2 separate regions of the Homo sapiens genome follow, and region 1 is linked to region 2. Evidence: fine-mapped QTL for protein levels in blood plasma. Region 2 holds a variant in brackets. A gene starts in the other region. All regions are shown on their reverse strands.

Region 1 (6,962 bases), not on the chromosome of region 2:
TCATCTTCTGAAATCTAGGCGGAGGTTCCCAAGCCTCAATTCCTGACTTCTGTGCACCTGCAGGCTCAACACCATATGGAAGCTACCAAGACTTGTGGCTTCCACCCTCTAAAGCCACAGCCTGAGCTGTATGTTGGCCCTTTTCACCCATGGCTGGAGCAGCTAGGACACAGGGCACCAAGTCCCTAGGATGCACACAGCACAGGGACCCTGGGCCCCACCCACAAAACCACTTTTTCCTCCTGGGCCTCCAGTCCTGTAATGAGAGGAGCTGCAGTGAAAGTCTCTGACATGTCCTGGAGACATTTTCCCCATGGTCTTGGGGATTAACATTAGGGTCCTTGCTACTCATACAAATTTCAGCAGCCGGCTTGAATTTCCCCCCAGAAAATGGGTTTCTCTTTTTCTTTCTTTCTTTCTTTCTTTTTTTTTTTTTTTTTTTTTTTTGAGACAGAGTCTTGCTCTTCTTGCCCAGGCTAGAGTGCAATGGAGTGATCTCGGTTTACTGCGACCCCTGCTTCCCGGGTTCAAGCGATTCTACTGCCTCAGCCTCCTGAGTAAGCTGGGATTACAGGTATGCACCACCACACCTGGCTAATTTTGTATTTTTAGTAGACAGGGTTTCACCATCTTGGTCCGGCTGGTCTCAAACTCCTGACCTCATGTGATCCACCCAACTTGGCCTCCCAAAGTGTTGGGATTACAGGCGTGAGCCACTGCACCTGGCCCTTTTTTTTTTCTTTTTTTTTTTGAGACGGAGTTTCCCTCTTGTTGCCCAGGCTGGAGTACAATGGTGTGATCTCGGCTCACTGCAACCTCCGCCTCCCAAGTTCAAGCAATTCTCCTGCCTCAGCCTCCCAAGTAGCTGGGATTACAGGCATGCACCATCATGCCTGGATAATTTTGTATTTTTAGTAGAGACGGGGTTTCTCCATGTTGAGGCTGGTCTCGAACTCCTGACCTCAGGTGATCCGCCCGCCTTGGCCTCCTAAAGTGCTGGGATTACAGGCATGAGCCACCACGCCCAGCTTTTCTTTCTTTCTTTTTTTTTTTTTTGAGACAGAGTTTCTTTCACTCTTGCCGCCCAGGCTGGAGTGCAATGGCGCCATCATCTCTGCTCACCACAACCTCTGCCTCCCGGCTTCAAGCGATTCTCCTGCCTCAGCCTCCGGAGTAGATGGGATTACAGGTGCCCACCGCCACGTTTGGCTAATTTTTGTACTTTTAGTAGAGACAGGGTTTCACCATGTTGGCCAGGCTGATCTCAAACTCCTGACCTCAGGTTATCAGCCCACCTCAGCCTCCCGAAGTGCTGGGATTACAAGTGTGAGCCACTGTGCCTGTCCGGGCTTTTCTTTTCTATCACATAATCAGGCTACAAATTTTCCAAACTTTTATGCTCTGCTTCCCTTATAAAACTGAACACCTTTAACAGTACCCAAGTCACCCCTTGAATGCTTTGCTGCTTAGAAATTTCTTCAGCCAGATATCCTAAATCATCTTTCTCAGGTTCAAAGTTCCACAAATCTCTAGGGCAGGGGCAAAATGCCACCAGTCTCTTTGCTAAAACATAACAAGAGTCACCTTTACTCTAGTTCCCAACAAGTTCCTCATCTCCATCTTAGACCACCTCAGCCTGGACCTTATTCTCCTTATCACTATCAGCATTTTGGGCAAAGCCATTCAGCAAGTCTCTAGGAAGTTCCAAACTTTCCCACATTTTCCTGTCTTCTTCTGAGCCCTCCAAACTGTTCCAACTTCTGCCTGTTACCCAGTTCCAAATTCACTTCCACATTTTTGGTATCTTTTCAGCAACGCCCCACTCTCCTGGTACCAATTTACTGTATTAGTCCATTTTCATGCTGCTGATAAAGACATACATGAGACTGGGAAGAAAAAAGGGTTTAATTGGACTTACAGTTCCACATGGCTGGGGAGGCCTCACAATCATGGTGGGAGGTGAAAGGCCCTTCTTACATGGCAGGAGCAAGAGAAAAAATGAGGAGGAAGCAAAAATGGAAACTCCTGATAAACCCATCAGATCTCCTGGACTTATTCACTATCATGAGAATGGCATGGGAAAGACTGGCCCCCATGATTCAATTATCCCCCTGGGTCCCTCCCGCAACACTTGGGAAATCCGGGAGATAGAATTCAAGTTGAGATTTAAGTGGGGACACAGCCAAACCATATCACCTACCTCTACAAAAAATACAAGAATATTAGCTGGGTGTGGTGGCGGATGCTTGTATTCCTAGCTACTTGTGGGGCTGAGGTGGGAGGATCGCTTGAGCCCAGGAGGTTGAGGCTGCAGTGAGCTGAGATTGCGCCACTGTACTCCAGCCTGGGTGACACAGCAAGATCTTCTCTCAAAAAAAAAAAAAAAAAGAATACAGTTATGCCCATTCATTGAGTTATAGTCTATGTCTCCTTTTGCACTGCAATGGCAGAGTTTAGTTGTGACAAGAAGTCAATGGTATTTACTATCTGGCCCTTTACAGAAAATGTTTTTTGACCCTTGTTCTTGGCTCACAAATGCTGAGACAACATGTGAAAAGCACCATGATAGAAAATATTTCTAAGGTATAATTATCAACATTTTTTTTTTTTTTTTGAGACGGAGTCTCGCTCTGTCACCCAGGCTGAAATGCAGTGGTGTGATCATGGCTCACTGCAGCCTCCACCTCCCAGGCTCAGGTGATCCTCCCACCTCAGCCTCCTAAGTAGCTGGGACTACAGGTGCGCGCCACCACACCAGGCTAATTTTTGTATTTTTTTAGAGACAGGGTTTTGTCATGTTGCCCAGGTTGGTCTCCAACTCCTGGGCTCAAACAATCTGCCCGCCTCTGCCTCCCAAAGTGCTGGGATTACAGGCATGAGCCACCCTGCCAGTCAGTGTCAACTCTTTGAAACAAAATAACCTAAAGGCAGCTGTATCCACACACATAAATTTATAAAAAATCTATCTTGAGGGGTAAATGGCTTTTCTTTTGAAGCTGAAATTCCTACTCACACACCTCTGAGCATTGCCCCTGAGTCTGGGTCAGATTTGTGTTCCCAGAGCATCAAAGGTGTTTGTAAGCAAGTGCACATGTCATTTGGTAACAGACATCCAGCACAGTTGAGAAAAGCTTTATATATAAATTATATTTTATCAATCCTTGATAAGAATCTTCAGCAAAATGACCCATGACCATTTCATGACTGTTATTCAAAGAACTGAATGTGATGTGACTTAGAGAAGTACTAACACTCATTTCAAATTTACCCCTTGGCCTCAGACAGGATTCCAGCCAGAACTCAGCCATGTGTGGTGCCAAGTGGAGTTAAAAACTGCACAGTGTCTTCTTGTTCCAGCCTTTGAGGTTGCTAAGGTCAAGGGTGGGCATGGGAACATGCCAGTCATAAGATGATTCTCCATCAGCTCTACAACCCCCTTCTACACTCTGCTATGTGGTGCCAGGTCTCAGCAGACCTCATTTCTGCTTTTTCAGCTGGCTTCCAGAAGGTTATGCCCATAGGGTCTGTCAGGGGGACACCGGAAGGCAGGAGGAGGGAGAAGGGACTGGCTCCTGCCTGCTGGCTGTTTCTTTCAGCAGTGCCACAGCAATGACTCTTCATCACTCTGATAGAATCAGCTGGCTCCAGTCTCCAGCATTTTTTTTTTTTTTTTTGAGACAGAGTTTCACTCTGTTGCCCAGGCTGGAGTGCAGTGGTGTGCTTCGCTCACCACAACCTCCACCTCCTAGGTTCAAGAGATTCTCATGAACCTGGGATTACAGGAGTATGGCACCATGTCCAGCTAAGTTTTATATTTTTTAGTAGAGACAAGGTTTCACCATGTTGGCCAGGCTGGTCTCGAACTCCCGACCTCAAGTGACCCACCCACCTCAACCTCCCAAAGTGCTGGGATTACAGGTGTGAGCCACTGCACCTGGCTCCAGTCTTCAGCTTTTCCACACACTCTTAGAGCCACCTGCATATCCAAGCAACACCCCCTTCCCATGGGTCTGAGTCCCAGCTTTCCAGGACCTCTCCTCCAAATTTCTAGTTCTGAGAATCCCAACCTAATCCGTTTGTTCCCCTAGATCGAGGCATGATGCCTACTTCCTAAAGGCTTTATCTCTGTGTTACCTCGTTTTCCCTTTCTGCTTTTTTCAGTTATCCCTACTGGATTAGCCAATTCCTTATACTAAATTATCTCTGGTGAAATACCTAGTAAACCTTGTGTTTTCCAGACTGGACCCTTACTGATAAGGCAACATGTCACAGAATCATTTGACACACAGGCATAAGAAGCAGAAAAAAAAAAAAGTGGATCTGCTAATGCACTTTTTTTTTTTTTTGACAGAGTCTTACTCTGTCGCCCAGGCTGGAGTGCAGTGGCACCATCTCGGCTCACTGCAACCTCTGCCTCTTGGGTTTAAGCAATTCTCATGCCTCAGCCTCCCAGGTAGCTGGGACTACAGGTGCGCACCACCATGCACAGCTAATTTTTGTATTTTTAGTAGAGATGGGGTCTTGCCATGTTGGCCAGGCTGGTCTCAAACTCCTGGCCTCAAGTGATCTACTTGCCTCAGCCTCGCAAAGTGCTGGGATTACGGGCATGAACCACCGTGCCTGGCCAAATTTTTTTGACATGGTCTCATTTTGCCACTGAGGCTGGAGCGCAGTAGCTCAATCTCAGCTCAATGGCCACACCTGGCTAATTTTTGTACTTTTTTTAGAGACGGGGTTTTGCCCTGTTGCCCAGGCTCCTCTCAAACTCTTGAGCTCAAGTGATCCACCAGGCTCAGCCTCCCAAAGTGCTGGGATTAGAGGCGTGAGCCACCACGCCTGGCCTTAATGCACTAACTTGCTCAGCCTCTTTGGCAAAAATTATTTCTCACAGAAGTAATGAGTAGAACAGTAGTTACTAGAGGCTGGGAAGGATAGGGGGATAGGGAGAGGTTGGTTAAAGTATACAAAATTACAGCTAGGTAGAAAGGATAAGTGCTAGTGTTTCATAGCATTGTAGGGTGCCGACAATTAACAATAATATATTATAAAGGTCGAGCACGGTGGCTCAAGCCTGTAATCCCAGCACTTTGGGAGGCCAAGGTGGGCGGATTGCTTGAGCCCAGGAGTTTGAGAGTAGCCTGGGCAACATGGTGAGAACCCCTCTCTACAAAAAATGCAAAAATTAGCTTGGCATGGTGGCATATATCTGTGGTCCCAGCTACTTGGGAGGGAGGCTGAGGTGGGAGGATCACTGGAACCTGGGAGGTGGAGGTTGCAGTGAGCTGAGATCGTGCCACTGCACTCCAGCCTGGGTAAAAGAGCGAGACCCTGTCTGAAATTTAAATAATAATAATAATTTATTATGTATTTTCAAGTAGCTAGATGAGAGGATTTTGAATGTTCTCAACACAAAGTAATGATAAATGTTTGAGGTGATGAATATGCTAATTATCCTATTTTGATCACTACACATTGTATGTATCCAAATATCACTATGTACCCCCATAAATATGTACAATCATTATGTGTCAACTCAAATAGTTAAAAAATATATTAAAAGAGGGAAAGGCAGAACGCTTCCTGAGAGCAAGGACCTCCTTTGTCGAGGTCAGGGCTGTGTCTTCAGCAACGAAACACTATCTGGGACTTAGTACATGCTTAAGAAATAGGTGTTGATTGACAGAGCTCCCAAGAGCTCCACAAGGGTCCCCCTAGGACTGTCACAGGTTCTTGTATGTCGGAGGGAGAGGTCTTCCCCTTCGTCTCCTTGGGGGGAGGGGAAGGTGTTGGGGAACAACTGCCCCTTCCTCTATCTCCCTCGCCCCTCCTTCCCCATGGCCCCCTCCCCCGTCCTTCTACCTTTCTCCTTCCCAGCCCTTTCCGGTTCTCCCCCGACCCTTCACGGCTCCTCTTCCCGCCGCTCCTCTTCCCGCCGCCCCTCTTCCCTCGCCACCTACCGCTGCTTTTCCTCCCATTCTCGCCCCGCCCCTTCCCCCGCCCTCCCCGCGCCCCGTCGCACGAGCGCTCCCTGCGAGTGGCGCAGGTAACAGACCGCAGGGGCAAGACAGCCGGCGCGGGAGGAGGATGGCGCTGTCGGTGCTGCGCTTGGCGCTGCTGCTCCTGGCAGTTACCTTCGCAGGTAGCGCTCGGAGCGGTCCTGGCGAGCGGGGACCTCCGGAGAAAAGCGGGTTTGGGAGTCAGACCGGCGGCGGACCCTGCCCTGCTCCGGGCGGCCTCGGCGACGGTACCCGCGCGCCCGTTACTGGCGGTTCCCCAGAGGACCTGCCAGGTGGAGGAACGCGAACTGGGGGTTGTGGGGGTGGCTTTGTGGAGTCAGCCACCCTCTTTAGTTCTTGCTTGGGCTTCGCTCCCAGCTCTAAGGACACCTGCCATCTAGAGCGCTTTCTCTGTTAAAGTAGATTTTCAGGTGCCCAAGATGAGGAGTTGAGTTTTTATGTATGGTCCCAAGGGAGGAGATGTGCAGGAATGAGGAATTGTGGATGCTTACGAGAAAGGGGCTTTAGTCCAACCACACTGGACACCTCTCTTAAAATGGAGTTAAAATGCTCACATCTTATATTAAATTTTGTATTTGTTACCCCGAGTTGTAAAGGAAAATAACATCATGAACTATTAATTAAGGGTTACTTCCTTGGCCAGGTGTAGTGGCTTGGGCCGGTAGTCCCAGTTACTCCGGAGGTTGAGGCGGGAGGCTCGCTTGAGACCAGGAATTGAAGCTGCAGTGCGCTAGCGCGACTTTTATTCCATAGCTTCAAAGTCCTTTCTCAACCAACCCTAATGGGAACAGAACCAAATGTTATTTCTATGTGCTTTTGGGGAGAGGTGCCATAAAAAACTGAATATCCTTTCTGGGGGAAGTGGGATGGGGACAGTTTAAAGAAGGTAGGCATTAGAGGGGAAAATAGAAGATGTGGCCTGGATAAATCCCAAACTGGATTTTA
Region 2 (16,284 bases):
CATGGCCATCTCCCTCCAAAAATAATTGTCCAAAGCTTCAGATAAAAGCTTGGGTTCTGCTTCTGACTTAGAGAGATGAGCAATTGAGGCCCAAAGCCTCATGATGTGGTGTGACCCATTTTGCAGAAGATTAAACTGAGACTGTGAGAATGGGATTTGTCTGAAGTCATAGCAAGTAAATGAGCATGATAGATACCTACTTGGGCCTCAGAACCCAATCTTGTACCAGTGTCCTGCTTTGGACCTATACTCCCTAAGGCAGGACAAAATGAGCTTATTAAATATGATGCCCTACACTTCTTCAAGGAATGTGATACCAGGAGACAATTACCCAGGACTAGGAGTAGAAGGCCTCCATCACAGCCTTTAGCCTCAGACTGAGCCAAGAAGAACTCAAGATTGGTAGAGGCATTAACATGCCAACCATCATCATTCCATCTGCAGTTGAGCAGAAAAGCTCTTTCAAATATAATGTGCTCTCCTTTGTAGTCTGTCAAATATTTTTCTGTCTGGACTTTGCCTTAGGGCAGGATAGATAGGATTTAGAGATAGAAAGGAATGGAAGGCTGTTAGATGTGGAGCCAGGCATTGCATGAGCAAAGGGTAGGACTGGGAACTGGCTACTTAATTTGCAAGGTCCAGGGCAAACTGAAAATGCAGAACTCCTTGGTCAAAAATTATTAAGAATTTCAATACAGCAATGGCAAAGCATTGAAACCAAGTGTGGCGCTCTGTGTGACTGCACAGTTGCATGCCCATGAAGCTGGCCCTGGCAGGGGATCAAACCTGGCCTCCAGGAAATGAAGCAGATGCAGGAGTTCTGAATGGGGACACTGGGAAGGGGGGTGAGGTGAGGGCCATCTCCCATCATTCTCCTTCCTGTAGGCTCTGCATCGATGGCTTTCGGTCCCATTCCCTCCCTGAAGAGGGGCCCAAGAAGCCCTGTCAGCATCATGCAGCACAGGAAGAGCCATGCACACGCAGTGGCCGTTTGCCCCAAGCCCATGAGGGGTGCCATCTGCCTTTGGAGACCCTGCTTACAACCAGCAGGGGAAGGCAGCTAGACTGCATGGCTGCCCATGGTTGATTCTAGGGCTGGGCTCTCCTTTGGGGAGTTATGGTGCCGCAAGTGTCTTTTTGGAAAGCTGTGAGGGGCCTGGTATTAGGACACAGGATTGGCAGATGAAGTTCTACCTGGAGCGAAGGGCTAGAGTCCAGTAAATCAGCTGCCAGTCCTAAGAGGGGTCCTTTAGAAAAGGCTTTTCTTAGGAAACCGGCCCTGCCTGCCCCTGGGCCCTTCAGGTTTGAGGGATATGTCTTGGGTCTCCGCTAGCCAGGGCCACAAAACCTCCCTGTGGTTAACAGTGACATGGCGGGCCCAGTGGGAGACAGTGTTTTCCTTGATGGGACAGACCTGTCCCTGTGGGTCCCTGCACATGTTTGTACATACATGCACACACACATACATACACATGACCAGCTCAGAGGCTAATGGCAGATGTCCTGGTAAGGAGCTGGCTGGCATTGCTTTGGGGGTGTGCTTTCAAGTCAAATCCTAACATTTCTGAAACATAGCTTACCTCCCCTCTCCCTGCCCCTCTGATGGGGCCTCCCGGGGTTACTATGTCTGTCCCATCAGCAGGGTCCCAGACCAAGGTTCTCACAACAGAGCAGAGTGAGCTCCATTTAGCTGGGCCGCATGGCCTTCAGCTCTAATTTAAGAAACAAAAATCCAGGTGACAAGGTAATAGGGGATAGGAGGTCACTCTTGGCATAGAAGGATGTGCCGCTTCCCATGGCTCCCTATAGTAAAGGGAGTAATGGGAAAGACAGTAACAGTGTGTGGAGTGCTCACTGAGTGCCGTGTATTATCTCAGGGGATCTCAGGGTTGGCATGTGAGATGGGTACTCTTATCCTTGTTTTACAAATGAGGAAATGAAGGCACAGAGCAATAAAGCAACCAGCCCAAGTTCTCCTAGTGAATTGGTAAAAAAAAAAAAAAAAAAAAAAAAAAAAAAAAAAAAATTGCTTAATCATTGATTCAACTGACATTCAGCACCTACCTGCTCCAGGCCAGGCTCTGTGTAGGGCACAAGAAAGACATGGTCCCTGCCCTCACAAAGCTCAAGGTCAAGCATACTTTACAGGACAGATGTGCACATGTGCATGCATGAGGCCAGCAGCCCTGGGTGGGGTGGGCGCTGTTCTGGGCCACTTCACCCTTGCTCTTTGGCTAGAGAGGAAAGAGGCACCCCCTCCTCACCATCCTCCAGCAGAAGGACAGAGTTCTAAAACCTGAATAATCCGTATAATCATATTTTAGATGACTAGTGTTTGCACAGTGCTAGGCACACAGTGGGTGCTTAACAAATTGTTGAATGAATATTGAACAATTAATTAGGAGTCATAGAAAATCAGCCTGGAAAATGTGGTTCTTGGGCTGAGGAGTATCACGCATTGCACTTGGAAAATCACCCTCAGCCTTGAACTAACTCTCCAAGTAGCCAAAGTCTGGCAGTTTTAGTTTTTACCAGAGCTATAAAGGACCATAAAGATAAGTGAACCCCGTCTGACCTGCACGGAACTGAGAACGCTGGAAGGTAGCCTGGTGTTCAGCAAAGAACACAGGCTTTCTCGGGGTCTGCAACTTTGGACTGTGTGATGTTGGGCAATCCATTCACCTCTATTAGCCTGCTTCTTCACCTTCAAAAAGATGACAATAATACCTGCTCCTAGGTTTGTTGTGTGCATTGGATGGGAAATATCAGTGGAGCGTCTGACACATTACAGGCCTCATTAAATGGTAGTTCCCTTTCTACCAGGCTCATACTAGTAGAGCATTTTATTTGTCCTGAGCAAAATCATGACTTGGAACACATGGACGAATAAGCAAAGCAGGTTACACTTAAATCTGACTAAGAGAAAGAAATTCTAAGAAATAAAAATTATTCCAGTCCATTACTAAAAGCTAGAAAAGCTCTTATAAAAGGGATTTGATAAATGGAATTCAATCCCAGAGATGACTGTGAGTGAAAAATTAGCAATGGTCCTTTTAAGAATAAAAGATTGATTTCTATAGTATCCTCTCATAGTTATCCTTTATTCTAGAGAAAAGTAAGAAGTAGTAGTTAATAATGGACTATACATCCACCCCAGTTCTATCTTTGTCACTTGATTGTGACTTAAAGCTGGGAATTCCTTGACAATATGAAAAAACAAAACAAAGAAAAACAAAAACAAACATGGCTAGTTAATTACTTTTTTGTAACAACTTTATTGAGATATGATTTATACACCATAACATTTACTCTTTTAAAGTATACAAATCAATCATTTTTAGTATATTCACAGACTTCAGCAACCATCAGCAATGATCTGATTTTAGAATTTTCATCACCCTTGAAAGAAAACCCATACCTGTTAGCAGTCACTCCTCATTCGCTACTTCCTCTAGCCCCTGGAAACCACTAATCTACTTTCTGTCTCTATGAATTTGCCTATTCTGGACATTTCATATAAATGGAATCATACAATATATAGTGTTTTATGACTGGCTTCTTATACTTAGCTCCTTTTCTAAGTCCATCCATGTCATTGTGCAGTGTATCAGCACTTCATTACTTTTTATGGTTTAATAATATGCCATGGTTTGGGCTGGGTGCGGTGGGTCACACCTGTAATCCCAGCACTTTGGGAGGCCGAGGCGGGTGGGTCACCTGAGGTCAGGAGTTCAAGACCAGCCTGGGTAACATGGTGAAACCCTGTCTCTACTAAAAATGCAAAAATTAGCTGGGCACGGTGGCACGTGCCTGTAATCCCAGCTACTTGGGAGACTGAGGCAGGAGAGTTGCTTGAGCCTGGAGGTGGAGGTTGCAGTGAGCTGAGATCACACCACTGCACTCCAGCCTGGGCAACAAAGTGAGACTCCATCTCAACAACAACAACAACAACAACTATATATATATATATATATATATATATATATATATATATATATATATATATATATATATTTCACGGTTTGGGTCTACCACGTTTTCAATGATCTGTTCATCAGTTGATAAGTAGTTGGGTTGTTTCCACTTTTTGGCTACTATGAATAATGCTGCTGTGAACATTCATGTACAACATTTTGTGTGTACATGTTTTCATTTCTTTGGGGTATATACATAGTAGTGAAATTGTTGGGTCATACGGTAAGTATATACTCAACCTTTTGCAGAACTCCTAATCTGCTTTCCAAAGTGGCTACACCATTTTACAATCCCAACAGCAATGAATGAGGGTTTCAATTTCTCCACATTCCTACCAGTACTTGTTATTGTGTGTCTTTAATTTTAGTCATTGTAGTGGGTGTAAAGAGGTATCTCATTGTGGTTTTGATTGCATTTCTCTAATAACTAATGTTGAACATCTTTTGCATTGAATCTATTGATCAATTTGGAGAGCACTGCCATACTAACAATAAGTCTTCTGCTCCATGAACAGAACATGGGAAGCTTTTCCACTTGTTAAGGCCTTCTGGAATTTCTTTCAATGACATTTTATAGTTTTTAAAGTATACATTTTGCAAATTTTTGGTTAAATTTATTTCTGAAGTGCCTCCTTTAATATTTCTTGTAAGACATCACTGCTAGAAACAATTCTCTCAAGTTTTGTGTATTTTTGAATTTCTTTATCTCAGTTTTGAAAGACAGTTTTGTTGGATGCATGATTCTTGGTTGACAGTTTCTTTTTTCCTTCAGCACTTAGAATATGCCACTCCACTGCCTTCTGTCCTTTATGGTTTCTAATGAGAAGTCAAACGTTGATCTTATTGGAGTTCTCTTGTATGTACCTAGTCATATATTTGCTGCTTTCAAAATTTTCCCTTCGTTTTTGTCTCTTTTTTTATTTAAGCAGTTTTACCATGATATATCAGGGTGTGGATCTCTTTGTGATCATTCTATTTGGAGTTTGTTGAGCTTCTGAAAGGTGTAGATTAATGTTTTCCACCAAATTTGGGAAGTTTTCAGTCATTATTTCTTTGAGCATTTTTTCTGCCCTTTTCTCTCTCTCTCCTCTCCTAGTAATTCTATTATGCATATATTGCTATGTTTAATGGTGTTCCCCATTTCTCTGAGACTCTATACATTTTCTTTATTCCCTTTTTCCTCTCTGTTCTTTGGATTGCATAATTTCCAATCCTCTATCTTCAAGTTTGCTGATTCTTTCTTTTGCCTGTTCAAATCTTCTGTTAAGGCCCTTGAGTTACTTTTAAATTTCAATTATTGTATACTTTTACTCCAGAAGTTCTATTCAGTTGTTTTGTTTGTTTAAGAGACAAGGTCTCTTTCTGTTGCCCAGGCTGGGGTTGAACTCCTGGGCTTAAGCAATCCTCCTACCTCAGCCTCCTGAGTAACTGGGACTATAGGCACATGCCATCATGTCTGGCTCAGCTTTTAAAAATATAAATGTAATTTTTCTCTCTTTATTGCTATTCTCTATTTGATGCAATATTGTCATCATACTTTTAAAAGCATGACTTCCTTTCATTCTTTGAACATATTTATAATGGCTGCCTTATGCCTTAAAGTCTGTTAAAATCTGACATGTGGACCCTCTCAGGCAGTTACTGTTGCCCACGTTTTCCCCCCATGTATAGGTCATATTTTTCTGTTTCTCTGCATATCTCGTAATTTCTGGTTAAAAACTGGACATTTTAGATAATATATTGTAGAAATTAGGTACTGTCACATTCTTCCACCCCCATTTCCCTGATCTTTCTTCTTCTTCTTTTCCGAGATGAAGTCTCACTCTGTTGCCCAAGCTAGAGTACAGTGGCATGATCTCGGCTCACTGCAACCTCCACCTCCTGGGTTCCAGCAATTCTCCTGCCTCGGCCTCCTGAGTAGCTGGGATTACAGGGACCTGCCACCATGCCCAGCTAATTTTTGTATTTTTAGTAGAGATGGGGTTTCCCCACATTAGCCAGGCTGGTCTCAAACTCCCGGCCTCAGGTGATCCACCCGCCTTGGCCTCCCAAAGTGCTAGGATTACAGGCATGAGCCACCACGCCAGTCTGATCTTTCTATTAAGCTGTCTGTGTCTGCTGGTATCACACCCAGCTGTTAGCCTCACTAATTGCTAGCCAGTTGCCTCATTCATTTCAATAATGCCCTGGGGGCATATATTGTCCCACAGTCTAATCCAGTTGACGTCAAGCCTCTTTGCAGTGGTAGTTTTTGAGGCAAATCTATAAGGTTTGTTTTGACTCCAGAAGGGCTGCTCTTAGCTGTCTCTTTCTTGTTTTGTTTGTTTGTTTGTTTTCTGTTTTTTCCTGGTAAACTAGCTGCATTATGGGTTCATTTGTTGCTCTAATGGAGTTACCAGAATCCTTTTAGTTGCTTACCACTAAATTCTCCATTGTTCTTGAGAGCAATCTTAGGCTGTCCTTTCACACACTCTATTTCAAATAAAGTTCGTTCCTGTGGGGACAGCTTTAGAACTCTGTTCTTTTGGATTATCTCTCCCCGCTGGGCAAAATATCTGAGCTCCTGTTGTAGAGAGGTAGGCAGGGAAAGCGGCCCATTTATCTCAGAATGACACCCCTACTTTATGAGTCAGACACTGAGTGGAAGTGGGAGCTTGGTGTGGAATCTCTGCCGTATGAATGAGCTGGGATAAGGGCAATCAAGGCTCTAATATTCTCAACTTGTGGCACCTGGAGTAGAGTCTCTACTATATGAATAGGCGGTGGGTGGAGGATGGGAACCTATGATCCCCTGGTTGCACTCACGAGGATTTTACCTTCTGTGGTTTGGAGCTAAGAGAATACAGGGATGGGTGGGGGATGGGCATTGGTTGTCCCTCTTGGTGGGCTGCTGTAGCCCTTCCTTGGAAGCTGATGGGAGAGAGAACAGTATTTTCTTGGCCATACCCACCTAGAGTGGAACTTCCATTTTTCTTGTGCTGGGAGGAAGGGGAAGGGGAGGGCTGAAGGAGTTATGACTCAAATATCATAGACTTCACTGTTCTTGCCAAGGTATAGTCGACTTTCTTGAATAAATATATGCCCTTAGGACAACTTCCAGAGACTCTAAATGTGTGTGTGTGTGTGTGTATTTTCACCAGTTATGGCTGTTTCACTGAGGAGCTGGTCTATGGCGCTGGCGCTCCTCACACTGCTAACTTCGAAGTCTCAGAATCTTTTCATGTGCTAATTGATTTGTATTTCTTTGGCAAAACATCTATTCTCCAAAATGGGCAAATGATTTTATCCATTTTTAAATCA[G/A]GTTGTCTTTTTATTGCTGAGTTATCAGAGTTATTTTTATATTCTAGATACAAATCCTTTATCAGATATATGATTTGTCAATATTTTCTCCCATTTTGTGGGTTATCTTTTTGGCTGTTTAATTCTTCTACTCATATTTTCATTTACAAACAACTAAGCCAGAAGGCTGCTAAGCCTTAAAATGTTCTCAGTATCTTTCTTTCTTTATATTAGAAAAGCTACCACAGATGGAAAAGCCTCACTGATGAGTTCTGTGATCATTGGAGGCTAAACCAAAGCAGAAGAACCAGTGAGTGTGAGTGGGAAGATAGGGATGGGAGTGGAGGGGCTGTGGGAAGGAGAAGGGTCACTCAGGGACCTGGCTGTGCCCCTTGCATCCTGACAATGGATCCACCACAGCTCTACCAGTCTGTATTAGGGGAACATGAGCAAATGGCATCGTGTCTGTGCCAGTCACCAAGCACTGAGGGGAAGCTCTGGAAGTTGCCGCCTGAACCTGCCCTCCAGTCTTGCAAATGCTGAGCAGGAGCCACCAGCCTTGGACTGTCTGTGCTTCTTGCTAGAGCATGTGGGTCATTCCAGCCTTTCCCCAGAACGTCCATTCTCTCCACACCTTCTTCATTCCAAATGGGGATCCTTGCCTTTCTTTTGGACTCCAGAGACATGCATAAAACCACAACACAGCTTTAGAAAACAAGGCACACCTGTATTAGTCTTACACCTAAATTGAATGCAGCCTGCCATAAGGGAGGAATTACAGTCCTTCTAGAGGCCCAAGGTACCTGCAGCTCCCCCTGACCAGTCCTGTCAAAGCCTTGTTTTTGTCAAAATGCCACCTTGGACTCTGTCTGAGAGTTCTGCTGCCCACCAAGAGGGATGGACAAAGTCTGTTTATCCAGAAACTTGGCAGGAGGTGCAGGTGAAGCAGCCTCTGAACAAAAGCATATTCTGAGATCCTGGTGGCTGTTGTCAGAGGAACACAGCAGAGAGGCAAACAGTTTGGGGTGAGGCAGCTGATAAACAAACAGGGAAGCACATTCAGGCCAGAGCAAGGGGAAGCCCCTGAGTCTCCTCTATGTGCTCTCTGGCAAGATCTACTTTCTGAAGCATTGACTGGAAATAGAAGTCTCGCCGGGCTGGCTGGAGCCAGAGGCCCCCACACCTTATCCCCTTTGGAATCTGCCAGAGGGCAGGTCTGAGTATGGACTTGGATGATCAACTTGGTTAATATTCAGGCTATCTTGACAGTCTCCACACCCGTGAGCAATGTCCCAGGGCAGCCTGCAGGCCTGATAGAAACTCCACAAACCTGCCTATCACGGAAGGTTTTCCCCTTTTGTCGGGGCCTACCCAGACCCCAGGGGAGGTGCATCCTTGAGAGCCGCTATGTGAAGTCCCACATAGTGGCAGCCGCATGTGAGGGTTAGTCTGTTTCATTATTCCCTTGCTTGCTGCTCTCAGTGCCTCCCAGAAGTTCCCCGTTAGCAGGGGAAGAGGCCTTATCCTTCGCCACATAACCTGGCTCGCCTCTGGGTTATGGGTGGGGAATCAGTAAGTCCTACTGCTGTTCAGGCCCTGACCCCAGTTCCCAGGAAAGCACAAGGCTAGTGCCACCAGAGGTCCAGGCCCTTTGCTGGAGGCTCCATCAACTCCACTACCAGTGGGCTACCAGCAGCTCCACTAGGGTTCCTAGAGGAGGCAGCCCAGCTGCAGAAGAGGACAGGAGGATCTACGGTGTGGCAGCAGCCCTGTCTTAGATCACTGGTGGCCTGCAAAGAAGGCTGGTCCTTAACACACAAGGTTCCCCCAGGGCCTCTGGAGCACAAGACCTGGCAGAAGTGGTATCCAGCTTAGAGGTGACTGCCTCAGTTTTCCCAGCCCATGGACTGATGGGAAGGTCAAGACCCTAATGATGCTCCATGGGAGAAGAGGACATGCTTGAGGCAAAGGCCAGCCCATGCTTAGCCCCTGGCCACGAGCCAGGATTGCCTCTGCTGCTTGCCCTGTGGCCCTGCAGATGAACTTAGGCCCTCTCCAGAGCAGAGCATTTGTTGCCCTTCCTGCTCCTTTAGCCTCAGGGCAGGAGGCTGCCGGGTTTCCTCACACGCAGGGCCTCTTCTCTCTGAGGTCTTGGCCCTGAGGGCTATATATGAAGGGCCATGCCCATGGAGACTGAGATCTGACCCCTGCAGTAGGTCTCAGGGATGAGGACCCCAGCATCAGACACTCTGGGTTGCTTGGGGCACTTCCTTCCCCAACAGAAGCTTCAGTCCCAACCCAGGTCCCACCAGTCCCTGCTTGCGTTCCTGCTCAACTGCTGCCTGATGGAAAACTTAGCAACGAGCTGTGACTGGCACTCCTCCCGCAGGGGTAAACACAGACTCCTCTAGCCCTGACTGCAGAGACAGATAAAGGCCCTTACCCTGGATATCTACATTCTCTATCCTTAAAGTGAAAAATAACTTGGTTTGAGCTAGAATAACTGGAGCAACAAAATAAAGATGGATAGCATTAGTTTATAACTGATGAAATAAAATAAGTATGTATGAACCTGTACTGATATAAGTTAACAATTGCATACATTAATAAATAGATGTGGAGGGGAAGCTCTTCTTCTCAGAAGAATTCCAATTAATAAATGTTGAAGGAATCAGAAAATGCAAAATCATCACTAGGCAAACTGCAGTAATAATTGTTTCAGTCAAGACCTAGTGATGAATGCTAAAATCAGTGAATAAAAATTTGAGGAGACACAGGATTTTGTATAATCTCGAAGAACCTCCCTTAAGATATTTATTAGTGACAGAGGAAAAAATAGTACCTTTACAGCAGAGAAATTCCACAGACACCAACTTGACAAATGATCAAGGTTAACATCACCAGTAATAAGACACATCAGCATCATGTACCCACTGGTATGATGCCCAGAGAATGCATCACTTCTAAGGTATCATTACCAAAAAGTGCATAACGCAATCTAATTGTGAGAAAAATCATGCCAACCCAAACTGAGGAGCATTCATCAAAATACTCATAAAAATGTCAAGATCATGAAAGATAAGGAAAGACTAAGGAACAATCACAGATTGGAGACTGAGACATGACAACTAAATACAACATGGGATTTTGGATGGGATCCTACGATAGAAAAAGGGCAGTAGTAGAAAAACTGGTGAAATCCAAACAAAGTCTGTAGTTCAGTTATTACTATTGTAACCAATGTTAATTTCCTGGTTTGGATAAATGCATAACGCGTATTTAAATTGTTAACATCAGAGAAAGCTAGATGAAGGGTATATGTGAAATCTCTGTACTATTTTCAAACTTCTCTCTAAATCAAAAGTTATTTCAAAATAAAGTTAAAAAATAATCGCCAGGCGCGGTGGCTCACGCCTGTAATCCCAACACTTTGGGAGGCCGAGGCAGGTGGATCACCTTAGGTCAGGAGTTCGAGACCAGCCTGGCCAACATGGTGAAACCCTGTCTCTACTAAAAATACAAAAAACAAACAAACAAACAAACAAAAAACTAGCCGGGCATGGTAGCAGGCCCCTGTAATCCCAGCTACTCGGGAGGCTGAGGCAGGAGAATCGCTTGAACCAAGGAGGCAGAGGTTGCAGTGAGCCGAGATGGCACCATTGCACTCCTCCACCCTGGGCAACAAGAACGAAGAAAGAAACTCCATCTCAAAAAAATAAAATAAAATAAAATAAAATAAAATAAAATAAAACGAAAAATAATTTGACTCTTAGTAACTGCACAGGTTGAAAAACTTGGACCTCACAATCAACCCCTGAAGAAGGAAACTACCTTATACACATGTACACACACAGACGAATGCACTCACGCAAACCCCAACTCAGACACCTTATTGCTACCTCCTGGCATACTATGAAAGGCATTTCTACAGCACAGCATGCCATCCTTGGTTCCTGGCTAACCCTGTCCTCCTGTGAAGAGGTGTTGGGGGGCAGTTCAGGCAGACTTGTCTGTCCCCAAAGATATGCCCATTGGGAGATCCTGGCACGGCAGTATAAGGCAAAGACACAATCTGAGGACAGTCCCACTACCTGTGTTGTGCCAACTGGGATGCAGAGAACCTTCTCAGGGGCCCTGGGCTTGGCCCTGTACACTGGCACTGGCCAAGTCAGTATGGGTTTGGACTTGTGTTCTATTCTCTGAGGCTTGGAACTGCCACTGTGGGGAGAGGGGCTCAGCCTCCAGCAAGTCCCATCACCTATTACACAGGCCACAACCTGGACTTTAGAACAGCTCCCACCATGCCCACTGTCCCCAGCCAGTGGAGAAGGCAAAGAAGGTGCTGAGCTTCTGCCTTTACCACTCCTCACCACCACCTAGGAAGCCCATTTGCTGGTGCCACACTCTTTGCTGGTGCCACACTCTGTGCTGGCCACCACCGGATGGGGCATGGGGCATTATCTCACTGAGTCCTCCCAACAACTCAGATAAGGTGGCTTCTCTTATTATCCCCATTTTGAAAACTGAGATAAAGTACACATAATATACAGTTTACCATCTTAGCCATTTTTAAGTGTACAGTTCAGAAGCGTTCACACTGTTGTGCAATCAATCTCCAACACTACTTTCATCTTACAAAACTGAAACTCTATACCCATGAAACAACGACTCCCTACTCCTTCCTTCTTCCAGTCCCTGGCAACCACCATTTACTTTCTGCTTCTGTGAGTGTGACTACTCCTGTAGTGAAATCAGAAAATAATTTGTCTTGTGACTGGCTTATTTCACTAAGCGTAGTCTCCTCAAGGTTTATCCACGTTGTAGCATGTCCTTCCTTTTTAAAGCTGAATAATCGTCCATTGTACGCATATACCACATTATGTTTATCCATTTGTCTGTGGAAGGACACTTGGGTTGCTTTCACCTTTTGACTATTGTGAATAATGCTACCATAGACATGGTGTACAAATATCTCTTTGAAACCCTGTTTCAATTATTTTAGACATATATCCAGAATTAGTATTGCTGGATCATATGGTGATTCTATTTTTAATTTTTTTAGGGACCACCACATTATTTTCCATAGTGGCTGCACCATTTTACACTCCCACTAGGAATGAACAAGGGTTTCAATTTCTCTACATCCTCACTAACACTTGTTATTTTCTGTGTTTAAAAACAACAACAACACTTTTTTAGAGGTGGGGTCTTGCCCTGTCACCCAGGCTGGAGTGCAGAGATATGGTCATAGCTCACTGCAACCTCAAACTCTTGGGCTCAAGTGATCCTCCTGCCCCAGCCTCCTGAGAAGCTGGAACTACAGTCACATGCCCTCATGCCTGGCTAATTTTTTATTTATTTTTTGTAGAGATGGGGTCTTACTATGTTGCCCAGTGCTGTCTTGAACTCCTGCCCCCTAGCAATCCTCCTGCCTCGGCCTCCCAAAGTGGATTTCTGGGTGTTTTTTTTTTCTTTTTGTAGTAACTATTTTTAAGGGTACAAAGTGGTACCTCCTTATGATTTTCATTTGCATTTCCCTAGTGATTAGTGATGTTGAGCCTCTTTTCATCGCTTGTACCCCCAATTTATAGACAAGGAAACTGAGGCTTTCATCAGTGATGTAACCTGCCTGGAGTCAGCCAGGTGGTTGGCAGTGGAGTCAAAACTGGCCCTCTACTGAGTCTGACTCCAGAACTCTGTGTGCTGCCGCCCCTCTGGGGGAGAGCCATCCATCCATCCTGCTTACCCTGGTACTTGCTTCCTTCCCTCCTCCTCCCAACCACCAGAGCCCAGTTTTTTGTTGTTGTTGTTGTTTGTTTGTTTGTTTTGAGACACAGTCTGGCTCTGTCACCCAGGCTGGAGTGCTGTGGTGTGATCTCAGCTCACTGCAACCTCCGCCTCCCAGGTTGAAGTGATTCTCCTGCCTTAGCCTCCCGAGTAGCTGGGACTACAGGGGTGCACCACCACTCCCAGCTAATTTTTGTATTTTTAGTAGAGACGGGGTTTCACCATGTTGGCCAGGCTGGTCTCAAACTCCTGACCTCAAGTAATCTGCCCGCCTCAGCCTCTCAAAGTACTGGGATTACAGGCGTGAGCCACTGTGCCCAGCCCCTAGTTGCTTTTTATTTTACTTCCACCACTCAAAAAGGAAGCCAGGAAGGGAAAAGCTGCCAAAAAAAGCAAATCCTGGTGCATGTGTGTGAATGTGTGATGATGTACATCCTTAGAGGTCCCTGTGAACAGCGTACAACATGAGTAGCTATGGACTTGGAGGCCAGCAGCTACTCACCCCTCACGCCCTACAGTGAACAAAACCAGCGAGCAATGGAAAAGCAGACAGGTCAGCCCAGCTGCCAGGGAAGGCTGCCACTCATGGGTCCAGCCTCCATAACAGGCACTGATAACACTTCCAGGAATCGACGCGGGATGAGCTGGCCCCCAGTCTCAGCTGCTCCCAGGCCATGCTGTGGGCAGGGAGTGGGCAAGCACTAGAGCCCCTGCTAGGGAAGCAAATCCAGAGAAGCATGGCCACCTTAGGGCCCAGGGTAGGTATGGTGCCAATGCTGGGGGATCCAAAGGCAGTCCCTGGGCTGAGCCCACTTCCCACAGGTGCCACAGATTCGACAACCACCACGCCTGGCTGGCCACCATTCTCTTGCAGAGGAGAGTTTCAAAACTTCCTCACTGGTCTTCTTGTTTATCATAGCAGCTAGAGTGAGCTCTTTCCAAAAGCACGAACCTGGCCTTAGAATGCTTACTATTTTCTCACTGTCCTCCGAATAAAGTCAGCTCCTCAGTATACATAGAAGGCCACTATGAACTAGCCCTTGTGGCCATTTCTAGTCTCATTTGTCATATCTGTCATCCCTTGAGTTCCAGCCACTCCGATATATGAGAATTCCATTACCTGAATTTCCCATACTCTTGCCTAGACAGGTCTTGCTCACATTTTCAGAATCAGCTAAAATCATATCACCCCTTCTTGGAGTATTTCCTCCACCTATTGTCCCACAGAGAGGGTGATTTATTTATCCCAGGTCACATAGCAAGCAAGGCAGGACTTGAATTTGGGTTCCAGAACCCTATTGCTAACCAGGGTTAATGTTAGCCTTCTCAGTAACACAGCCAGTGTGCCCCATGGGCATCTGAGGGTAGGCTCCACACACCAGATGTCCACACCTTAGTGCTCAGCACAAGGCCAGACACAATGTCTGATGACCGCTATACCGTGCTGAGGGAAAGGGATAAGGGACTAGCAGAGGCCACTCAGGTTTTTCTTGGGAGGAGCATGAGGCAGAGGAGGGACTAGCAGCAGGGAAATCCTACCTGCCTGACCAATAGCAGGCAACAGCTCCATGAGGATGCTCTCCTCAGAAGAAAGGTGTATCCTGACCCAGGTCCTTACCAGATGTGAAGCAGCAAAAGCGGGAGAAGTGTGTGTGCATCCTCATTCCTGGAACTTAGAAAACCTGCCACTAACCACGCAGGGTGCTGAGGGGCTACAGCCCCTGCCTGCCAACTCACCCTGTGCTCAGAGAGGTCCCTGAGGGCCAGGGCTTCCAGCTGGGGTTTCGCCTTCTGTGCTTCCTTGCACCCAATGAGCCTCAGGAGGCCATCTGCTGTCTTAGAGAAACTGGGGCCTCAGGAAAGGACCCCAAACCTCACAAGTATATGGTACGGCAGTACACCTCCTGATGCCTCCAGAAGTCTGTGGCCAGGGAACAGACAAGATTTGGCCCCGCCCTGCCCAGTAACAAGGTCCCTCACACCCCTCCTCCCATGCCTGGCAGGAAGGTGACTCAGGCAGTGCGTCTGGGTAGCCTGGGGCTGCGCTTCCCCCAACGCAACATCTAGGTTCTTAGGAAACTTCATTTGTTGTGAAAATCGGAAATGAAAAGACAGTTGGTGACAAACTCCTTTCTCCATCACCTCCTTATTGGACAGAAACGACCCAGGAATGCGCCTCGCGTGAGTCCTATTCTTTCTTGGGGTGCACACCCGCTGCTGGAAGTATGAACAGCAGGTTTGAGGGGGAGGGGAGCGCTGACCCGGGCACTGCGCAGGGAGTCTCAAGGGGGGCTGACGCAGAGGGAGGGTCAGGCACTCCCGGGTCAACGGTCTCGGCCTGGCACCCACCTCGGTCACGACGGTGGACAGGTAGACGTCCTGGCTGAACTCCCAGCCATCCAGGCAGCTCTCCTGCTCCAGCTGCCCCAGGTCCACGTCGCGCCCCGGCTCCAGCCCGAGCGCCGAGAAGTTGGCGATGGTGGCGAGCCGGTAGCGGCTGCAGCTGTGGGGCACCTCGCGGCCGTCCCGCAGCCGCAGCGGGACACTGTTGTTGCGCCAGGCGCTGCTCAGGTTCGCGGCGTCCGGCACTCGACAGCGGTGCTCCGGGGTCCCCGCCAGGAACACGACTGACATACCATTGAAGCCATTGGGGATGATGCTGGCGCTGAGCAGGAAGAAGATGAGGCGCTGGAAGGGCCCCCACTCGCCCAGGAAGGCGATCACCTCGTCGTAGTCCCGCATGCTTCCCACTGCCGCTCCGAAACTTGCAACTACGGGTGATGACAGCGTTCTCAGGACAGTGTCTTGTAGCTGGGGCGCTCCCCAAGGATGTTAGAACGTTCCCGGGGGACAGGCAGGCTGTTAGAAATTGGGGCGCGAAGCCGGGGACCGTTCCTGGGAAACAGGCTGAAGGCGTTGGAGCGTTCCCGGGAGCTCGCGCTGAGCTTGATGCCACTGTACACTTGGGACCACACCCCCATCCCCGGCCGGGCGCGGGGAAGGGGAGGGCGGCCCAGCCCGGGAGGCTGGGCTCCCGGCTGTCTCCGCCCTGTGCTTCGCGCGCCCGCCCGCCCCCAAGGACCTGACGGGGGCTTCCAGGCTGGGCTCAGCCATTCCGCCCGCGTGCCGGGGAAGAAGCTCGTTCTCGGTTGTCCCCAGCCACCCCCGAGCGCTGATTCCCAGACCTGGGCCCCACGTGGGAGGGCGGGCGCAAGGGAGGAGCCGAGGCCAGAGAGCGAGTTCT

Which allele goes with the higher level. Alleles are on the strand shown, and positions count from the first base shown. The strength of an association depends on the size of the effect and on how common the allele is.
For the plasma level of the protein whose gene starts at base 6,046 in region 1, G is the low allele of the variant in region 2 and A is the other (moderate association).

The links. PIP is the chance, under the fine-mapping model, that this variant and not a neighbour inherited with it causes the effect. Protein levels are from antibody-based Olink assays in UK Biobank. Linkage for the fine-mapping came from a reference panel and not from the study's own genotypes, which makes the PIPs less certain.
Region 1: it holds the start of SPINK2, and the variant in region 2 is fine-mapped to the plasma level of the SPINK2 protein (UK Biobank, PIP above 0.99).

Annotation. Positions count from the first base shown.
Region 1 is chr4:56,820,785-56,827,746 of GRCh38, reverse strand. It overlaps SPINK2 (serine peptidase inhibitor Kazal type 2), which reads left to right and starts at 6,046. Exons shown (of 4, transcript NM_001271718.2): 1 at 6,046-6,289. The coding sequence starts at 6,085. RefSeq lists a silencer at 5,945-6,204.
Region 2 is chr5:132,294,115-132,310,398 of GRCh38, reverse strand. SLC22A4 (solute carrier family 22 member 4) reads right to left here and starts at 16,005. Exons shown (of 10, transcript NM_003059.3): 1 at 15,390-16,005. The coding sequence starts at 15,782. RefSeq lists silencers at 15,838-15,887, 15,958-16,284. The variant G/A (reference allele first, on the strand shown) is at 7,275.